Regions from separate parts of the Homo sapiens genome. Here region 1 is linked to region 2. Evidence: fine-mapped QTL for protein levels in blood plasma. A gene starts in region 2. The other region holds a variant in brackets. All regions are shown on one strand. Distances are from middle to middle.

Region 1 (10,226 bases), 100 kb after region 2:
ATGGCACTCACTTTGGGATCAGGAACAAGTCAATGATGCTGACTATCTCTGTTACTAGTCAATACTGCACTGAAGGTTTTAACCAGTGCAGAAAGCACCAGAAATATGTATACAAAGCATAATGATTGGAAAGGACGAAACAAAATTCTTTGTAGATGAGATTGCCTATATAGAATTCTCTTCCCACAAAAAGACGCTTCAGATAAGATTTATGAATTTAAAACTTTAGCAGGAATATTGATAAAGAAACAAGATTTTAAAATTCAACTGCATTTCAATATGCCAGCAAAGACTACTTAGAAAACATAATTTTAAAAATACAACATACAAATTGTCACTAAAAATATAAAGTACCTAGGAATATATTTAACACAAAAATGACCAAATCCTTCATGAAGGAAATTATAAAACTCTATTCATAGCCATTTGAAAAAGCCAATTAAATGTCAAGAGATGTGGCTTGGAATAGAATGATGCATTATCATAGAAATATCAATTTTCTTTATACAAATTTATAGATTCATGCAATTTTCATAAAAAATTTCACCACAAAATTTGATACGCTAATTTTATAATTTATATGAAACAGGCAAAACTCAATTATAACCAAGTCACTCCCAAAGGACAAATTACAGGATATATCCTCCAACAGATATCTGGACTCATACCAAAGTTATAACAACTAAAACAATAGCACAGGGATAGATATATTCATCAATATAACAGAAAATAGAACCTAGAGACTCACATTTACAGGGAGACGACAGACTTTGTAAGTCAGTGAAGAAAATGAATGAAAATGAAATAGCTAGTTATGTATATGAACAGAATCAAAATTAAATTTGACCTTTATCTCTTACCAAACCACAAAAATCAATTCCAAGTTATCAAATATTAAAGAAAGCATTCTAAAAATTTTACAAGACAATATCTTTATGATTATGCTTTGAAAGATTTCTTTAAAAAATACCAAAGGCATAAACCATAGAGAAAACATTAATGATTTTACTGCAGTAAAATAAAGAATATCCATCTATTCATCAGATGACATCAAAAAGAGCTCGAACAGATAAGCCACAAACTGGAGAAAATTTGCAACACACATAGGAAACAAAATAATTTTTACATAGAATACATTAAAAAGTTCATAAATCATTAAGAAGAACACAACCAACCAGGTGGGGAAAAGTGAGTAAAAGAAATAAAAAGACCTTTCATAGAAGAGTAAACACAAATGGCCCATAAGTATATGAAAAGATGTTTGATCTCATGTGTAATCATTGACTACAAATTAAAATCACATTGAGATGCCATTTCATACTTTCACAAGACTAGCAAACATTTTTAAATTAGTTAATATCAAGTGTTGGTGAGGATGTAGATCAATGGGAACTCTTATCCACTGAAGTTGGGAGTGTATATTAAAATGATCACTCTGGAAAACAACATGTTATAATGCTATAAGTTAAATATGTGTATAATCTACCACCTAACTTAAGCTATTCCCAGGTTTAAGCGCATGGATACGAGGAAGAGTTACAAAAAAGAGAATGTTCATAGTAATATTGTTTGCAAGAGCAAAACAAAAACAAACCCCCAAGAAACCTGTTATTTATGTAAATATTCATTAGCAGATTGGATATATAAATTGGTATATACTCATACAATAGAGTAGTATACAACATGAACTATTGATGAAATGCATATGGCACTCATCCATAAGGATGAATCACAAAAATTATTCTTTTGAACAAAAGAAACAAATAACAACATGATTCAATTTGTACAAATTCAAAATACATAAAACTATGTACACACACACATATACACACATATAGGAATACATATATGAGTTATATATCCACGTATCCATTCATATGTAAGATATGCATATATGTAGTAAAACAAGAAGAAACAAGGACATGATTAACAAAAAGGCAGAATAGTAGTTATTTCTGAAGGAGAGGGAAGGGGACATAATTAGGGAAGCAAATGACATGAAGCTCCCAAATTCCTACAAATGTTTTACTTCTTAGTCTGAGGGCCAAGTACACAGTAGTTCGTTTTGCTTATTATTTAAACTGAGCAGATAACATTTTATATATTTTATGAATAGTATCTATTTCAGTAATATACATGAAAGAAAAGTGAATTGATGAGGTACAGCCATTGATGCCTCAAAGAGTTTGGGCCACGCCACAGTGTGTTTCACTGCATAACTGTATTAATCCATTCTCATGTTGCTAATAAAGACATACTCAAGACTGCATAATTTATAAAGGAAAGAGGTTTAATGGACTCACAGTTCCATATGGCTGGGGAGGCCTCACAATCATGGCGGAAGACGAAGGAAGAACAAAGGGATGTCTTACATGGTGGCAGGCAAGAGAGAGCTTGTGCAGGGGAACTCCCATTTACAAAACCATCAGATCTCATGAGACTTATTCACTATCACGAAAACAGTATGGGGGAAACTGCTCCATGATTCAATTATCTCTACCTGGCCCCATCCTTGACACATGGGGATTATTACAATTCAAGGTGAGATTTAGGTGGGGACACAGCCAAACCATATCAGTAACCTACTGCCAAGTACAGCCGTCTCCAAGCCTGACAGTGGATTCATTATTGAACACTTTACACTAGTGATTGTGGTTGTGACAATTTTATTTCCAAATAGCCATTACTGCAATTCATGTCCACTATGTTACTGCTGCAACAAAAAAGCTGCCCTAGAATGTGACGGCCATAGTTGACAACAGGTCTAAGAGGTAGGACAGGAGAGGGATGCCTGCCTCAGATGTTCCAGTGGGGCATGCAGCAGATTGCTGGCACTTTCTTTGAGAAGCCACTAATGCCTTTTATTTTGTAAATGAACAGACATTAGTTGGAAGATGACCTGCCCTGAGTGTGCTGGCACAGGTAGCAGCAGTAAGTGAAGCAGCGGTAAGCGCAGCATTCCAAGGAGCCTGTAAAATAAGCAGGCTAAGGTGACAGAAAGGAAGATGAGTTCTCAGAGCCAGGGAAGCAGCCTGGGCCCAGGAGATGGCTCCAGGAGCAATTTAAATGACGAAGTGATAGGCATTCAATACAGAGGAAATGCAGAGGACAGTGCAATCAATCACTGCCAAGCTTATCTTCTAACAAGGAGTAGGGCTCCAGTTTCCAGATGTAACATTAAAACTTAATGTTTCCACTGGGGTTTAGCATGGCAGGTTTCCCTGAAACTTCAGTTTCACTCAGTTAACTAATTATGAGAAAATGTGACATTGGTATTTCCTTTTTCTACAGGGACAAATCATTACCAGCAGGAGGGAGAAGTTGTTATTTTTGTTCTGCTCTGTTTTGTCATTAAAAAGAAATTAACTTACACAGTAGTAAATATACTCTTGTTAGAGGAGGGAAGAATTATCTCCATAGTTCTATCCATTCAATCATGTCTTTGGTTTTCCAGGGACATGGCCGATAAAAGAGAGTTAAGAGTTTGATTGTTAGAATTGGGTCTGAAAATTAACTCTCTCACCTACTAGCTATGTGACCTTAAGCAAGTTATTTAAGCACTCTGAGCCTGCTTTTGCAGCTGTGAAACTGGGGGTGATACATTGACTACAGAGTGTTATTTGTGAAAGATGAAAGGACATAAGGCAGTTGGAGCATGCGAGCACAGTGCTTCTGCATAATAAGCACTCAATACAATTTAGCCTTTATTCTTAGTGACCCTGATGCGCTATTATATAAATATAGAAACAGTTTATGTGTCATTTAGACCTTGTGTTGCCAATTCTATATGACCACACATCTAATCATCAACTGAGCCTTTACTCTGGCACTATAAGCTAAATGGTGTATTAAACATTTTACTCCTCCTCACCCTGATGTAATAAAAGGTTTCCAGAGAAAATTTAATGATAATGAAAAAAACGGTTATTCTCTCCCGTCCTCTTTAAACTTTTCAAGGGCGGAACATAATCCCGAGCAAACATCACAGATAAACTTGTGCTTCCTCTTCTACTGCCTGGATGCTAGCGAATAATACTATGTTTGGGGTGCTTTTAACAAATCAGAAAGTGGGCCGGGCACGGTGGCTCATGCCTGTAATCCCAGTACTTTGGGAGGCCGAGGTGGGCGAATCGAGAGGTCAGGAGATCGAGACCATCCTGGCTAACACGGTGAAACCCCGTCTCTACTAAAAAATACAAAAAATTAGCCGGGCATGGTGGCGGCCGCCTGTAGTCCCAGCTACTTGGGAGGCTGAGGCAGGAGAATGGTGTGAACCCGGGAAGCAGAGCTTGCAGTGAGCCGAGATCGTGCCACTGCACTCCAGCCTGGGCGACAGAGTGAGACTCCGTCTCAAAAAAAAAAAAAAAAAAAAAAATCAGAAAGTGATTTCACAAATGATTTCTCAATTGAACTTGCTACAATCCCATGAGGTACGCAGTTTATGATTAGCTCCATTTTACAGACAAGGAAAAGAAAACAAACAAGATAAGGTAAAGGACAAAGCCACTGTATTTAAGCTCTCTATGCAAGAGTACCATGGGAATGAAAAATACCAGGGTTATTGGACGTTGCAAAATTAGATTTTTCCAAGAATAAGTTCTTGTCTTAGAGCCAAAGTGACTAGTTATTACAGAGGGAGGACTATTTGAGGAAAGCAAACAAAATAGAAAATCAAGAGACGTAAGGTTTTATATTCCAATTTCACAATCCATGTGTCCAACATGCCTTAAATTTTCTACCAATAAATTTGAGAAAGACAAATTGCTACTTCTCACCTCTCCTACAAGTGTGTTGCAATGCCATTATTGTGTACAAATAATATGTAAGATTGATGCTATAACATTCAAGAGGTTTTATACTAGCCATAGTACACATGAGCTCTTAAAAATGTATAAAAAGAAGGAAATATATTTTGAGTGGTGGATAGAAAATTCTGGTAATAAAGAAAAAAGCTTTTTTTCAAGAATATATGGGCTAGAAAATGATGAACAATTACATAGGATTAGGTAAATCATCACTATAATTTTGCATTATGTACTTGAACTATTTTTGGAAGTCACAGAAACAAACTAAGAGGTATGAACATGTAAGAAATTTTTTGAAGCCATGAAATTATAATGGCCCTCTAATTTCAATAATGTTTCTTCAACTAATCACATATAAGGTTCTTAAAATAATCAATTCTGAAGTGCTCTTAATCTTCCAAGCAAGTCTTTCTGTCAGTAGTCACCCTTTAGGACTTCAAAGGACCCTGACATATGCCCCCTATTATTTCATAACCACTTAAGAAGTCCTAGTGGATTATCAAATTATAATTCACAAGTTTCCCTCACCCACCATTTTTGTCTGAATGAGGAATAAATTCTCATAGACAGGAAGGCAAAGACAACCAAAAGTCATTAAAGGGAATCCTAGTTCAAAATAAAAACCAAACACAAGCTTCTAGTTTATAATGTGAACATGGAAGCCCAAGGGCCTATATAAATGGGCAAACACCTAGTAATACCAACAGCAATCAGCAAAATAGCACATAATAGCAGGTTACCATTAGGTGGTCAATTGCCTGATCCTGACTTAATGGGCCTGAACATAATTTTCCCTATGATTCTTCATAGAGAATAACACAACTTCATTCCAGTACTAAGTCAGATTTCACAATGTGGCAGTAGAAGAGGCCAGCCTAAAACTCCTTCTCCCTTTTCTTAATTCATTCATTTAATAAACACTTTTTCCTTGTTTGCTCTTCGTTGGAAACTATATCAAAGAACTCATAGTCTAATAGGGAAAACAGGTAAATAAAGCATGAAATTTGCGCATTAAGCCCTAGAATGTAGAAAAATATTAGGCACAACGATAAGCAGATCAGCAAGCCCTTACAGAGGATGAGGTGAGGTGCATAGAAACCATCTATATGGCAAAAGAAGTAGCATCCTGTCAGAGAGAACAGTATGGAGAAAAGCAGGGAGATGGCAGAAAAGATGGTGAGCTCCAGAAATTTGATGTAGAATTAGATGTATTGTCACATGGCTGGAAAACAGATCATGGGTAGGAGAAGGGAAAAGATGGTAAATGAAGCAATAAGCAGTGGAGGAAGACAAAGATTCCATCATTTAGTGCTTACTAGTCCATGCTAAAATACAATATTGAAAAGCTGAACACAATTATTGGTCGGCTGGAAAGATTTCATTCTAGAGGCCATCGGAGCAGATTTTTACTATGGAACGATCATTTTGGTGCTAGCCCGGTATACAGTGTACTAGGGAAAAGAAATATAGAGGTATGGATACCAATTATGAGAGAATTTCCAAAGTCCAAGTAAGATACAAAGGGGCCCCAAACCAAAGTTCCATATAGCATATTTGTAAAACATAACTACATAGCATAACTGATCATTGTAGACACTTAACACTTTTGTGACTGATTGGATAAATGAACAACTCCAAAGGTGAGATGGAACAAAATGAGATATTTTCTCTTTTGAGTGAATTAGCTGTCTCTTAAAATGCAAACAATTCATCTCAACTGGGTAACAACAAATACCACTGACTGCTTGCCTTCCTTTCAGATTTAGAGTGCTCTTCACAAATGAGTGATTGGAACATGATCCCAATGTCCATTCTGGAAGGGACTGTAGGGAATATCTACCACAAACTACCACAAAAATTTTTATCATTTTAAGGATAAAAATCTGAGTCATAAAAAGCACAGGACTAGTCCAAAACCACAAAACCACAAAAAGTTTCTGCTGATGGGACTGAA[A/G]TCAGGCAGAATAAATTAAGGCTTCACAATATTCGTCAACCAGACGGGTTGGAACAGATTTGAAAGATATCAAATTCAGCTAGGGTGATTTAAGTTTTTAAAAGTGTTTGACATTTCACATTCAAAAACCACAAAGCCAATATCTTAGAGACATTTGCTTAAACAATTATTTGCTCTGACAATGAACTGCAAAGACCAGGGGTCAAGTTTCAATCCTGAATTGGTATAAATAAGACAGATGATTCTTACCATGATCTTCTGAAGAGACTGGTGACCTAAAAGGAAATAATAAGCATGATCAATATTTTATATGATAATTATAATGATAATCAAGAATAATTTCATAGTAATTTTACCCTCAAATTGAATTAAATGGAAAGTCAATATAGTAGACAGTGTAATTAATGTGTTGATTGCATGGTATATTTCAATCAACAATTCCCAACTCTTACCTGGATTGGTTGGATGTTACAGGTTACTAAAATATCAGTCTATGCATGGTGTCCTAGGACTGCAACAAACTTAGCTAAGTCTAGATTTACCACACAAAAAAAGAGAACTCATAGAAATGTAGTATAGATGAAATCCTGTGATGTGTATTGCCCAAGGACATGGCTCCAGCCAGGGATATAAAAAAAGCATTAGATTGGGTGTCTGTAGATACAAAGAGATCTACTTGAACAGTATAAATTGAGACAGAGGTAAAAGAAATAGCATGCACCCTTATCATTACCAGTTTTTGTTTTCACTCTTCATGGAATTTAATGTTTGAGTGAGCTGACCCTCTATTCGCTGCATTATGTCTCAGAACCCGGGAGAAACAGCATGAGGCCAGAAGGCAATCACTGAGGTTCCTCAGAACTTTATCAACAACTTTTGCAAACTATATGTGAGTTCTGCTTTAATTATGATAATCAGATCTCAAATGAAAAATCATATCAACCCTAAAAGGCTTGCTTCCCCCCAGTTGACTACTAGTTGAAATACTTTGAGTAGTATAGACCTAAGTTTGGAGATGAATTCACCTCCAGCTTGAAGACTACGGCTTTGACTCACACTTATTCTTTTCTGAGGAGAAAGAGAGAGACATATAACATTATATTCAGAGTTGTTGAAATTTCGAAGGGAAAGACAAGACATCACATACTTCCCCTATTTTGAAGGAGTCCTCTTCTCTGAATGATTGGCTCACTCAAATCCATAGCAGGGAAATGGCCAAAGATAAACTCAGGAGTTTGGCAATAGAGCTGCCAATTACTATAACTAATATTTATGAGACATGAAGATAAACCTCAGGACAAGAATCATTCAGTCAATACAAAAATGGTTGAAAATAATTTTTAGCTACTTTGGGATGCTTGATATGACTTTATCTACTGGTTAGTAAGATTACTGTTTATTATGTGAGTGAACAGTAAAGAATAAAGACACAGTGGTAAAGGAGAAAAGGCCTTGAACCTCAATGAGTGGCAAAGTATCAATTTATTTCAACTGTGCAAATCTCTTAAAGTAGACTTTTTCATGAAAACTACAGAGTCCCAAGATTTGGTGGAAAGAAAATTGGCTTCTGGGAGATGGACATGGGGGTGGTGAGCGGAAACCTGCCACAATCCCTAGTCAACACTGCCTGAGAAGCACCATTTGGCCTCCCTGGGTAGGGTTGATTTATCCTCCCACTGGATTCCCTTATTTTTTATCATCCACATACCAGCCTTTCTCACTGGGTTGTAACCCCCTTGAAAACTAAGGCTGTATCTTATTTAGAACAGATGAGCCCTTAATTAAAATGTGTTGAATTGAATTAATCTCAGTTCCATCACACTGATATTCAGACTGACACATTCTGGAGCTTCCCAAAAAGTCATCATGTTACTGTAAAACCATCCTTAAGACAAGCTTGCCTGCTCCTAGGCCAGCTGCAAGGAAAAGTCCTAGAGACTTGAAAGTGCCTGAAGCTCCAATTGGTTATAATGTGGACACTCTCAGAGCCAAAGGACATCAAAAGCACCCAGAAACACAGGCACCCATATTCTGCCTCCATTATTATTAAAAATAAAGTTGGGGAGGGGAGTATTGAATGAGAGGTGAAATGAAATTAGAAGCTGAATCTAAAAGAGAACCTATATTTTAAGTAAGATGAGCTAATTTCTTCAGGTGCTTAGGTCATACTAGAATCAGCCACAAGGAAATATCTTTCCTCCTGGTGTTTGCTGATGAGAAGTAAGTGAAAACGTGTCTTGGATTGTTTGCAATTAATTTGTCACAGAGCTACAGGAACAAAGTAAAATTCATGCCAAAGGACAACTAAATGTCTCAAGTGGAGAGCTTGTGAAGCAAGGTCTTTGCTGGCTTTGTGCAAAAGCAAAGCCCTGATATTAAATCTGAAAAATTCCAGATGGCTCCGTTAGAGTCCCAAGGGGACGCATTCTGCAGTATGTCCAGGCAGTGGATAAAATATCAATTTCAGAGTGTTTTGTGAAAATTAGTCATGTTGAGTTTCCATGTTGAATGTCTCCCATATGCCTGGCTTTGTGGAATTTTAAGACATATGGAGTATTTCCATCCTCACTCAGTATTTCACCTTTCACTGCAACAAGTTACTGCACTGCACTACTGAGACATGCACATCATCCATTATTGCTGGAAATCGGCATAAAAAGTTAGCTCATGTGTGGATCACCTGAGGTCAGGATTTTGAAACCAGCCTGGCCAACATGGTGAAACCCCGTCTCTACTGAAAATACAAAAAGTAGCTGGGCATGGTGGTGGGTGCCTGTAATCCCAGCTACTCAGGGGACTGAGTCAGGAGAATCACTTGAACCTGGGAGGCAGAGGTTGCAGTGAGCCGAGACCGCGCCATTGCACTCCAGCCTGGGTGACAAGAGTAAAACTCTGTCTCAAAAAAGAAAGAAAGAAAGAGAGAGAGGGAGGGGAAAGAAGTTAGCTCAGGAGAGAAGAAATATTCTGAAATCAGCAATATAAGTAGTTATTTTAACAACAGAGGTTCAATCCCAAAAAGAGATAATTATCTTAAACCTGACAACTGAGGCATGCAGGAAAGCCCTCTGGTTATTCTTTTCACCACACCTGAAAGACATGTGGTTGTATCCCAGACTGTTTATTTTTCCTCCATGTATACTTTATCTTGGAGCAAGCATCTGCCCTTATAGTGTAAACTATTACTAGCATTCTTATAGCTGTCCTCTTCACTTCTTTCCTGATCATGAGTCCTTTAGCTACAGAATATTCATATTTGTTTGTGCTTTGTTTTTATTTATTTTGGTACTTTTTACATTTTATTTTGCTTAAATGCAGCAAAATAATACAAAACAAAAATTCAAGCCATGCATTTAAAAATATTTCTCCTACTAAGCCTAAATCATTATTATTCAGGTTTGACTCTCTCCATTTATGTTGATTCAATTTATTACTTGAGACCCTATTATTACCAGGCCATGTGCCAAGGG
Region 2 (9,044 bases):
AATGAATGGCATTTAGAGCTGCCTATTTTCTCACTCATTTGCCATCTTCAATGGTTCTATGCTAAATATGCTAGGGTTCTTGAGAGAATGAGAGACAGCCCTTGCCTTAATAGGGTGCACAGGTTGGATGGGGTGGGGCTGGTGTCAAATGGTGAGAAAGGAGGAGCTGAAGTCACTATAAGGGGTGATGGGGAGACTTCGAAGACAAGGGAAGAAATATAGCTCCACCTAGAGGGGGCATTTGCCTTGGAAAACCTTTGGTGCCTTCAATTTCCGACTCAAGATTTCACCCAAATTCCACAGCTGAAGTACAAGGATTTGCCTTCTTTCCCTTCATGTATATGTTTTCATTAAAGGACACTCTTCTCTTCTGGTATAAATTTTCCTGAAAAGGACATCTACAGGGAGTGCCATGTCTTAAAAATTATATTGATTCTAAATAAACTCAGTCTGAATTCTTAAGTTGTCACTTCCAATAATTTGTTTCTGCTACGTTATGTGGCAAATGTGAAATGAAAACACGAAGGAATCAGGAGTTCAATTTCCCTTCCAGAATAAACAGCATTAAAGGAACAAACAGACATAATGCTTTTGAAATAGACGTTGCGTACCATTTAGCCTTTTGTGAGCTCCACTTTCCTTTTTCTCATAAAAATGTGATCCCTTTGTCATTGGAACTGCTTAGGGCAACAATTGTACATATCTTCCTCTAACCTGTGTTGTAGTAATTAGTGTTTTAATGTTCTTACATATATATTGAGTAGATCATTAGCTGCTTGAAGACATATTTATTTGTCCTGTTTCCCTCATCACACTACCTACCATATAGTATGTCAGTCACTATGCGTAAAAGTCTGGTAGGGATAAAAATAAAATAACAGGAAGTCCTTTACTTCAATCTCCTCCTCCAAATAGAATTGTGCCTGAATGATTTCCTTCAGTATTCATTGAAAAAATATTAAAAATGTGAGTCCAGAGCTCATTAGAGAGAATCTTCCTTCAATTCTCTTCAGATCTGAGAATTTTCCTTGTGAAGGAGTTAAAGCTCAAAGAAGAGTTGTGACAATACTAAAGCATTTGGAGAGGAGAGAGGAAGGCGGGAAACTGAAATATTTGGAAATAAATGTACACATTTGGAAGACAAGAAAAAAAAAAGCAAAACAAAACATGAAAAAAGGAGTGCCCAAAGAAATTAGGAAAACATTAAGACAATAACATATCAAGGAGGTTACAGTATGAGATAATCATAAAATGTTGGGATTAGCAATCTGTGACTTTTAAAGCATCTTTTCCAGAGATGGGTGAGGGTATAATGGATTTTAATTGAGATCTCCTTTAAATACATTTCTAATAAAGAATTTCACAAGTTCACACCACGTACCAAACACAAAGTATTAGATATTGTGAAACCATAGAGATAGACACCATGTTCTATTTCTTAAACATGCTACATTGTCCAGCACAATGTAGTATTAGGCATCCAACATACGTACAATAAATATTGTTAAATTGGCTGGCCACAGGAGCAAGAAAAATTGTATTGTTGGAGTAGGACCCCGAGACGATGTGATGGACATGAGTAACTCCAGCTGCGCCTCTACATTGATGTTGGGAAACTGAGAAGAGAATGAGGTCAACATTGCAGTGATGAAAATGTTGCCTGACCCTTAGGCAGGGTCTTGAATCAAAAAAAAAAAAAAAAATGGGGGAAAAATGCCATTGAATCAGTAGAGAGGGCACTGGTGTTGAAAACATCAGCTAGGAAGGTCCAAGCTTCCAAGAATGCCAACATATGGGCAGGCATTCCTGGTACATCCGTACATAGAGAAATGTATGCCATCATAGCAAGAGGGAATTGGGCAAGACGTTCTGGGACCTGTTGGGTGGGAAATAGTGGCAACCAAATTAATGGAGAAATGAGAGAAAAGAAGGAGAAATAGGTAAATGTAAAAGCAGGAAGAAAAGGGAGCAAAGGGTTAGAGACAGAATGCTATTTGTGTTTTAAAATTATGTTTTAGCTTTTGCTAAGAGCAATTCTTAGAATTAAGAGCCCAATTATCAGTTACTATGAGTCACTTTTTTCAAGATTAATATACAGCGCTTGATTTTTTGTTACACTATGTGTGAAGTTGAAAAAAATCTAAGACTTCTATTTTTAGAAAACTGGATATGATTTTTTTCTGTTTGAGATATCACTTTATCTCAACCCACTCTGAAAAAATGGTTCAATAAATAAAGCCTAGAAAAATGAATTAAATTTTATCCCTAAAAATATCTCAAACATGAAGGAGTCATTGTATTCCTTGTCCACCCTGAAGAAATAGAGATTTGTGGTGAATGTGATCTACATAATTAAGTCCACAATATTCCCATATTTATAATACCCTCTGATAGTGTTCCATCATAGCTACCCTTTTAAGATACTGTTTTAATTTCTTATTTACTAAATGCCAAAATAGAAAGAAAAAGAGGTTTGTTATATTTTACAATCTAGAAATATTGTAATGACACCATGAAAACTATGCCGCACACTAGACTGGCTTGAAGTGGATGGAAAAATAGCCCAGTGGGTGGAAACTTGAATTGTCCATAAACATCAGAAGGAAAAACAACTTTCCACGAGGCCATGGCCCAAATTCCACTTAAGCCAATTGACTCTGGATGGAAAAAAGCAAGCCCAGCTCATAAAAAGAAGGTTCATATCTGAGTATCATCTTACTTCGCCTCCCACAGCAGTGACATGACCTTGTGCCAGAAGGAGGCAAAAACTCTTCGACTATTCATTTAGAACAGAAGCCAGAGCTAAAAACATTCCTCACCCTTATGGAGAAGCCCAACTCAACATCACTAGCAAAGCTATGGAACAAAGGCCATTGGAGAGCTCCCACTCAGCCTCATGCTCCAGAGAAAAGCACATCTCAAACTGGGCTGAGGTGCACTCAGGTGTGGAGGATGTTTGCACTCATCACATTGGGTGGTCTCAGTCTGGACACCTCCTTCCTGAGAGAAGTCAAGAACAACTCCCCATATCATTATGCCGCCATATTAAAAAGCATAATTCTTTAGAGAACTGGAATTTGTATTCTGAATTCTGACTTCAGGCCCTCAATCTATTGTTAATTTATCACACCATTTTCAACGAGCCGGGTAAACTCGATTTTGTGGGAAATTTTTGAATAGTAATTAAAAACACCACATGACAAATAGGAATATGGTCAGAATTCATGTGAGAATGCCATGTAAGTGAGAAAGCAAAAATATCTTCAAAGGAAAAATAAAATATTTAAAGTTAAAATATTTGATATCTAAGATTGATTTTACTAAAAAAAGTGATTCAACTATCTGGGGATCTTATTTCTCTCTGTTGTTTTCAACAACTAGGCTTTTATGAAATTTTAAACCAGGCCATTGGCTTGACTGAAATTTTTTTAAAAAATGAAAATGCTCATTAAAAAGAAATGTAGATCTTGTTATGTGTTGCTATATGTGAAGCCCAAATAAGGCATATGGAAAATATCAATAAATTAATACGTTTATTAAACCAAATCTCATGATCTCATGGAAAGGGGTCTAAAAAAACAGAGAATTATATATAATACATATAATACATTAGACTATAAATATAGTTAGGTATACCTTATTACTCTAATTATCTATAATATCTCATTTAAAGTCAGATAATTAAAAAGTCATGTATCTAATAGTACTTTTATTTATCTCAAGCTCTAGCTTTGAGAACATAATGCATTTGCATCCAGAAGCAAACAGCTGGAACACAGCACCTAATGCTGTTATATGTGGCTTCAGGTGGGAGTTCCTTATAGTGGCTTTTCACTAAATGCAGAAAAAGATGTCCTAAAGGGAACCAGTGAGCAGTGGCAGAAAAAAGATCACCTTCTATTTATTTAAAGTACAATTAGAGAACTTAAGGCCCAAGTTTCTTAAAGCACAAAAGGATGGCATTAGAGTTTTTTTTAAATAATATAATTTTTTAAAATCTCATCTTCTAATTTAAATGAAAAAGTACAAATATTGCCAGTCTGAAATAACTCATGTCCCAAAGGAAGAAAAAAATATTCATTCTAATTTCCTCTGAATTTAACTGGACTATATTTTTTAAACGACTTGGCCTTTAAAGTGCATAATTTACTTAAAAGGAAACATAATGAAGATGGAAAATACAGCTTTATTTTCTGTGTTGGGAGACTTCTCTTTTGTTTCATTGTCATTAACTTTCAATATTTCTACATATCAATGCATTCCCGGATAATTAAGGGGCTAAAATGGGCCCTGCTGTTTCATCAATTCCACATTTGCCTAGGATCATAAAATGTTTCATTATGTTATTAGTCCAGAGCTCTTTTTGGTGATTTCTAAATCTCCTCCCAGACCCCTCTCTCTAGCACACACACACGCACATGCACACGCACACACACACATCACCCCTTTCTCAAGCTGCTAAAGCAAAATGCCTGATAACTCTTAAAATGAGAGATGCTCAAGGACCGCAGCTTTAATATTTTCTCCTCTTAGCACCCCTACCCCTCCTATTTTCTGAATGTGTCCCCAAACTTACAAAGCAGCTCTTAACAGACACAAGGGTGAGTTAACACTAGAGTGTATATAAACTGCATGTGTGTGTTCCTGTGTGTGTGTGTGTGTGTGTTGTGTCACATTATGTCATGGAGAAAGGGGTGTGTGTGTATGGAGAGGAGAGAGGAGGTTTCACTTTCCATCTATTAAGAAAGGAGTTGAATACATTCCTCTCAAAAAATGTTTTCTTAACTTATTAGAAACAACAACTCAGAAACTCTAAATATCTAGTAAATTAGTAACAAATATATCCTAAATTTATGTGGGTCAAATTAAAAGTTTAAGGGTCTATGTACTGGGCAGTTCTTTAAATTTGCATTCAAATGAGAGATGGGACTCCAGGTGTGTCTTCTAAACTTTGGACCTAACCATTTCTGGAACCATTCCTGGGCTGTCAGGTGGGAAGACGGGTGCCAGTAGTTCCGTGAGAGACGTTTCATGTCAGCTAGCACTGGGAGGAACAAGCCCCCACAGCTTACCTAGAAATGCCAGCTAAGAGTCATGGGCTGACAGGCTCTGGGGCAATCAGAGAATCAGAGAGAGGCTGGGAAAATGAGAGCTGCTTGTTCAGGCTGCCTTACTTTCTTTGCACCTACCCAGCCAGAGACACACCTACTAAAGCTCCAGGTTTTACAAAAAGCAAAGATGCACTCTCCAGCCCACCCTGTCTTGCTCTCCAGCTGGTAGCTGGAACACGGTCCAAATACATGCTTAACATCACAAAAACTTCTTTCCTTTCACTTACCTAAGCACACCCGAACTAACCTAACCTGAAACCCCAAAAATATGCCTCCCTTGGCCTCTGGAGCAAGTCAGTTTTGAAAGCAGTCCTATCAGCAAAGACACCAGGCAGCCTCTCTCACCCCTACCACCATCATCTGCTGGCACCCAGAAAAGTGGCACAGGGTGAAGGCAAACTCGATCGAAGAGCCCTCCGAGAAATCGTACGTTCCTCTCACTTACTTTGAGTTGGAAACGTCCTCTCTGGCGCTCAGTCTGCCTTTGTTGCAAGGGGCGAGGTTGCTACCGCTGAGTCCAGGTACCCGGCTCGCTGCAGCTCCTGCTTGGGCCGCTGCTGCTCTCCCCGCCTTCTGGACGGATGACTCACTGGTCTCTTTCTTCCCCTCTCTCCACTTTGGATTTTCCTCTGCTCTGGGGCTCTCTTGGCGGGATTTTTGGACTGGAAGGCGGGGAACCTGATCCTGCCTTTGACTCAATTACGCCCTGACAGGGAGGGAACGGAAGGGAAATGGAGAATGGGAGGGATGAGAGGAGCGGGCCAGGAGGACGAAGGCTGGGCGAGGGAGGGAGAGCGCTTTGCACTCGAGAGCTGATTGGGAAGCTTATTAAAAGCAGAATACTCCAGGGGCAGTCTCTCCCTGCGGAGCAAGAAAACGGATTTGAACCAAGAGGCCATGAGATGGTACCTTGTTTTGTTTTTAGCAGAGACGAAACACAACATTTCTTTTCCAAACTCCACCCATGATCTATTCTTCAGATGAGTGCAAAGCCACTTTGCCAAATAGGATATTTTAAATGGACAATTGATGGCATTTTAGGTTACATTTTTGGCCCCCCACAATCCTTTAATGATATTCAGAATGGAAAAGCACTCTCTTCAAACCAGCCTCTTCTTCCACCCACGAAAGCCCTCTCTAAACACAGAGACAGTAAGGTGTCAGTCACATCTCACCTGCAAAGCACAAAATGTACAAAGTACTTTTTCTCAATTGTCACAAAGAGTGACAGACGTCTCAAAGTTCCCAATTAAGTGCTACTTACCTTTAGGGAGAGCTCTTTCCTTTTTTGGTTTCCTTGGTGCCTTTAGCAACCTATTTAGTAACATGCCTTTGACACCCAAGAATTTAGAGGATTCGTCAAAGTAGCTCAAACTCTGAGGTTTGTAAAACTTGGAGGCTGGGCTTTGCGTCTCTGGAATTGTCATTTCATTCAATACAGGAAAGACGCTAAGGCAATGCATAGGTAAATATTTATGATAAAGATGAGATAAAAGTATTGTGTAAAAGGATTAAGATGTATTATACAAATTCACCCAAACATTTTCGAAATGTAAATTTCGAGATTTTCTGCCACTTATCAGCTTTTCCTGCTCCGTGGCTAGCTCCTTTTACCTACTTTTACCTTTACTGGTCAGCTTATCATTTGATGGCGTCCTTCCCAAATTGGTTGTAAAATAGACCACATTTTTCATAATTCTGAGGTTACATCCCTTCATTTCAATTTGACAAATATTTATTAAGCAATTTGTTTACTTAGAACTATCCTTAAATCCCCAAATTAGAAGCATTGTCTTGTGGCAAGTAGTTTTTAGGGACTTGGGGCTCTTCTATTGACAGCTACCTGTAGAAATGTCCCTTGGAGAAGTTGACTGGAGCCAGACGTGGCTCTACAAACTCAATCAAGCAGTCAATCAAGCTTTTCAAAAGGAAAGGCATCAGAGATGCACTTACACACCTACAATTTATCCCCCTTCCCAAACTCTTCATATACATACCACATACAATTCTCAAATGAAATAACTAAATAAGGAAGCTGTGTTCCTTTCTCCTACACACAGGCTTCAGGTTACCTGTTTTCCTTTTGTGATTCCACTTCTGTGTGAAGCAAGCAGTGCTTGTTTTAATCAGATTTCACCTGTATAAAGTGTGGAGAAACGCACATTAGCATTTTTTTTTGGCATTTTTCCCAGTCCCTTTACCAAAAAAGATATCTCAGCATTCTATTAACACTCCATAGGGGCAAAGTTTCTAAGGCATTGAACAAAGAGCTATCCATTTTCTTTCTGTTCTTCAGCTTTATGTTAACATATACAAATGTAACATACAGCTAGCTACCAGTTAGGTGAACAATGCTGGCTTGATTGAGGTGTTCTCTATAGGGCTGATAAAGTAAGCATGAGATTCCCATGATTTCTACTCAATTACATATGTTACACCAAAAATATCACCCTTTATTCAGATGGGTATATACTAAAATTGTATACATCAGTGATTATCAATTGGGAGCAGTTTTGCCCTCCAGGAAAAGGGAATAATGTCTGGAGGTAGTCTTGGTTGTCGCAACTTGGTGGAAGGGGTTGCTCTGGATCTAGTGGGTAGAAGCCGGGGATGCTGTAAAACATCATACAATGCATAGGACAGCCTTTGTTACCAGAAAGCGGTCCCGGTCCAGACCCCAAGAGAGGGTTCTTGGATCTCAGTTGCAAGAAAGAATTCAGGGCAAGTTCATAGAGTAAAGTGAAAGCAAGTTAATTAGAGAGGTAAAGGAATAAAGAATAGCTAGCTACTCCATAGGCAAAGCAGCCCCAGTGGCTTCTGGCTGTCCATCTGTTTGGTCATTTCCTGATTGTATGCTAAACAAGGGGTAGGTTATTCATGAATTTTCCTGGAAAGGGGTTGGCAGCTCCCGGAACTGAGGGTTCTTCCCCTTTTTAGACCATATATGGTAACTTCCTGACACTGCCATGGCATTTGTAAACTGTCCTGTGCTGGTAGGAGTGACTTTTGGCATGCTAATGTGTTATAATTAGCATGTAATGAGCAGTGAGGACGACCAGAGATCACTCTCGTGGCCATCTTTGTTTTGGTGGGTTTTGGACGCCTTCTTTACAACAAGCTGTTTTATCAGCAAGTTCCTTATGACCTGTATCTTGTGGCAATCTCCTATCTCATCCTGTGACTTAGAATGCCTAACTTCCTGGGAATGAAGCCCAGTAGGTCTCAGCCTTATTTTACCCAGCACCTATTCAAGATGGAGTCGCTCTGGTTTAACCACCTCTGACACCTCCACAACAAAGAATTATTTGGCCCAAAATGTTAACAGGGCTGAGGTTAAGAAAACCTAATGTTATTCACCATGGTATTTTAAAAATGCAAAGACGGATTAAAGAGAGTTTTTTTTTTAATAAATAGAAATTTATGAGATTGAGATTAGTCATAATTTAATTCAATCCAGCATTTTCATCAAAGTTGAAGTAGAATGTTTTTTAATACACAGTGAAATACTCAGTTTCAAATCCGAACTTCATCCTACGGCATAGTCAGGGGTCTGTTGATTCCAGAGTCCAAGTTATTTCATTCATTAGGCTAATATTCTTTAAGCACTTAAGTCTTTAGCTTGATAGAGCTATGAAGAAAAACTGTTGACAGTCCCTACTCTCAGATAGCCTATGTTGTTGTTCTTTCTTTCTTCTGAGATGGAGTTTCACTCTTGTTGCCCAGGCTGGAGTGCAATGGCGTGATCTCGGCTCACCCAGGTTCAAGCAATTTTCCTGCTACAGCCTCCTGAGTAGCTGGGATTACAGGCATGCACCACCACACCTGGCTAATTTTGTATTTTTAGTAGAGATGGGGTTTCTCCATGTTGGTTTGGCTGGTCTCGAACTCCCGACCTCAGGTGATCCACCCACCTCAGCCTCGCAAACTGCTGGG

Alleles and levels. Positions count from the first base shown, and alleles are read on the strand shown. Strength reflects both the effect of a copy and how common the allele is.
For the plasma level of the protein whose gene starts at base 5,851 in region 2, allele G in region 1 goes with a lower level than allele A (weak association).

What was found. PIP is the chance, under the fine-mapping model, that this variant and not a neighbour inherited with it causes the effect. The UK Biobank Pharma Proteomics Project read protein levels with antibody pairs (Olink). The fine-mapping took linkage between variants from a reference panel, not from the people measured, so its PIPs are less certain.
Region 1: its variant is fine-mapped to the plasma level of the PTN protein (UK Biobank, PIP above 0.99).

Annotation. Positions count from the first base shown.
Region 1 is chr7:137,437,069-137,447,294 of GRCh38, forward strand. It overlaps DGKI (diacylglycerol kinase iota), which reads right to left. Exons shown (of 33, transcript NM_001321708.2): 28 at 7,009-7,034. Among named protein-coding and RNA genes, the nearest start is that of PTN, 98 kb to the left of the region's middle. RefSeq lists an enhancer at 2,706-3,222. The variant A/G (reference allele first, on the strand shown) is at 6,760.
Region 2 is chr7:137,337,883-137,346,926 of GRCh38, forward strand. It overlaps PTN (pleiotrophin), which reads right to left and starts at 5,851. Exons shown (of 5, transcript NM_002825.7): 1 at 5,557-5,851. RefSeq lists promoters at 5,645-7,809, 5,645-6,390 and a cis regulatory region at 6,394-6,403.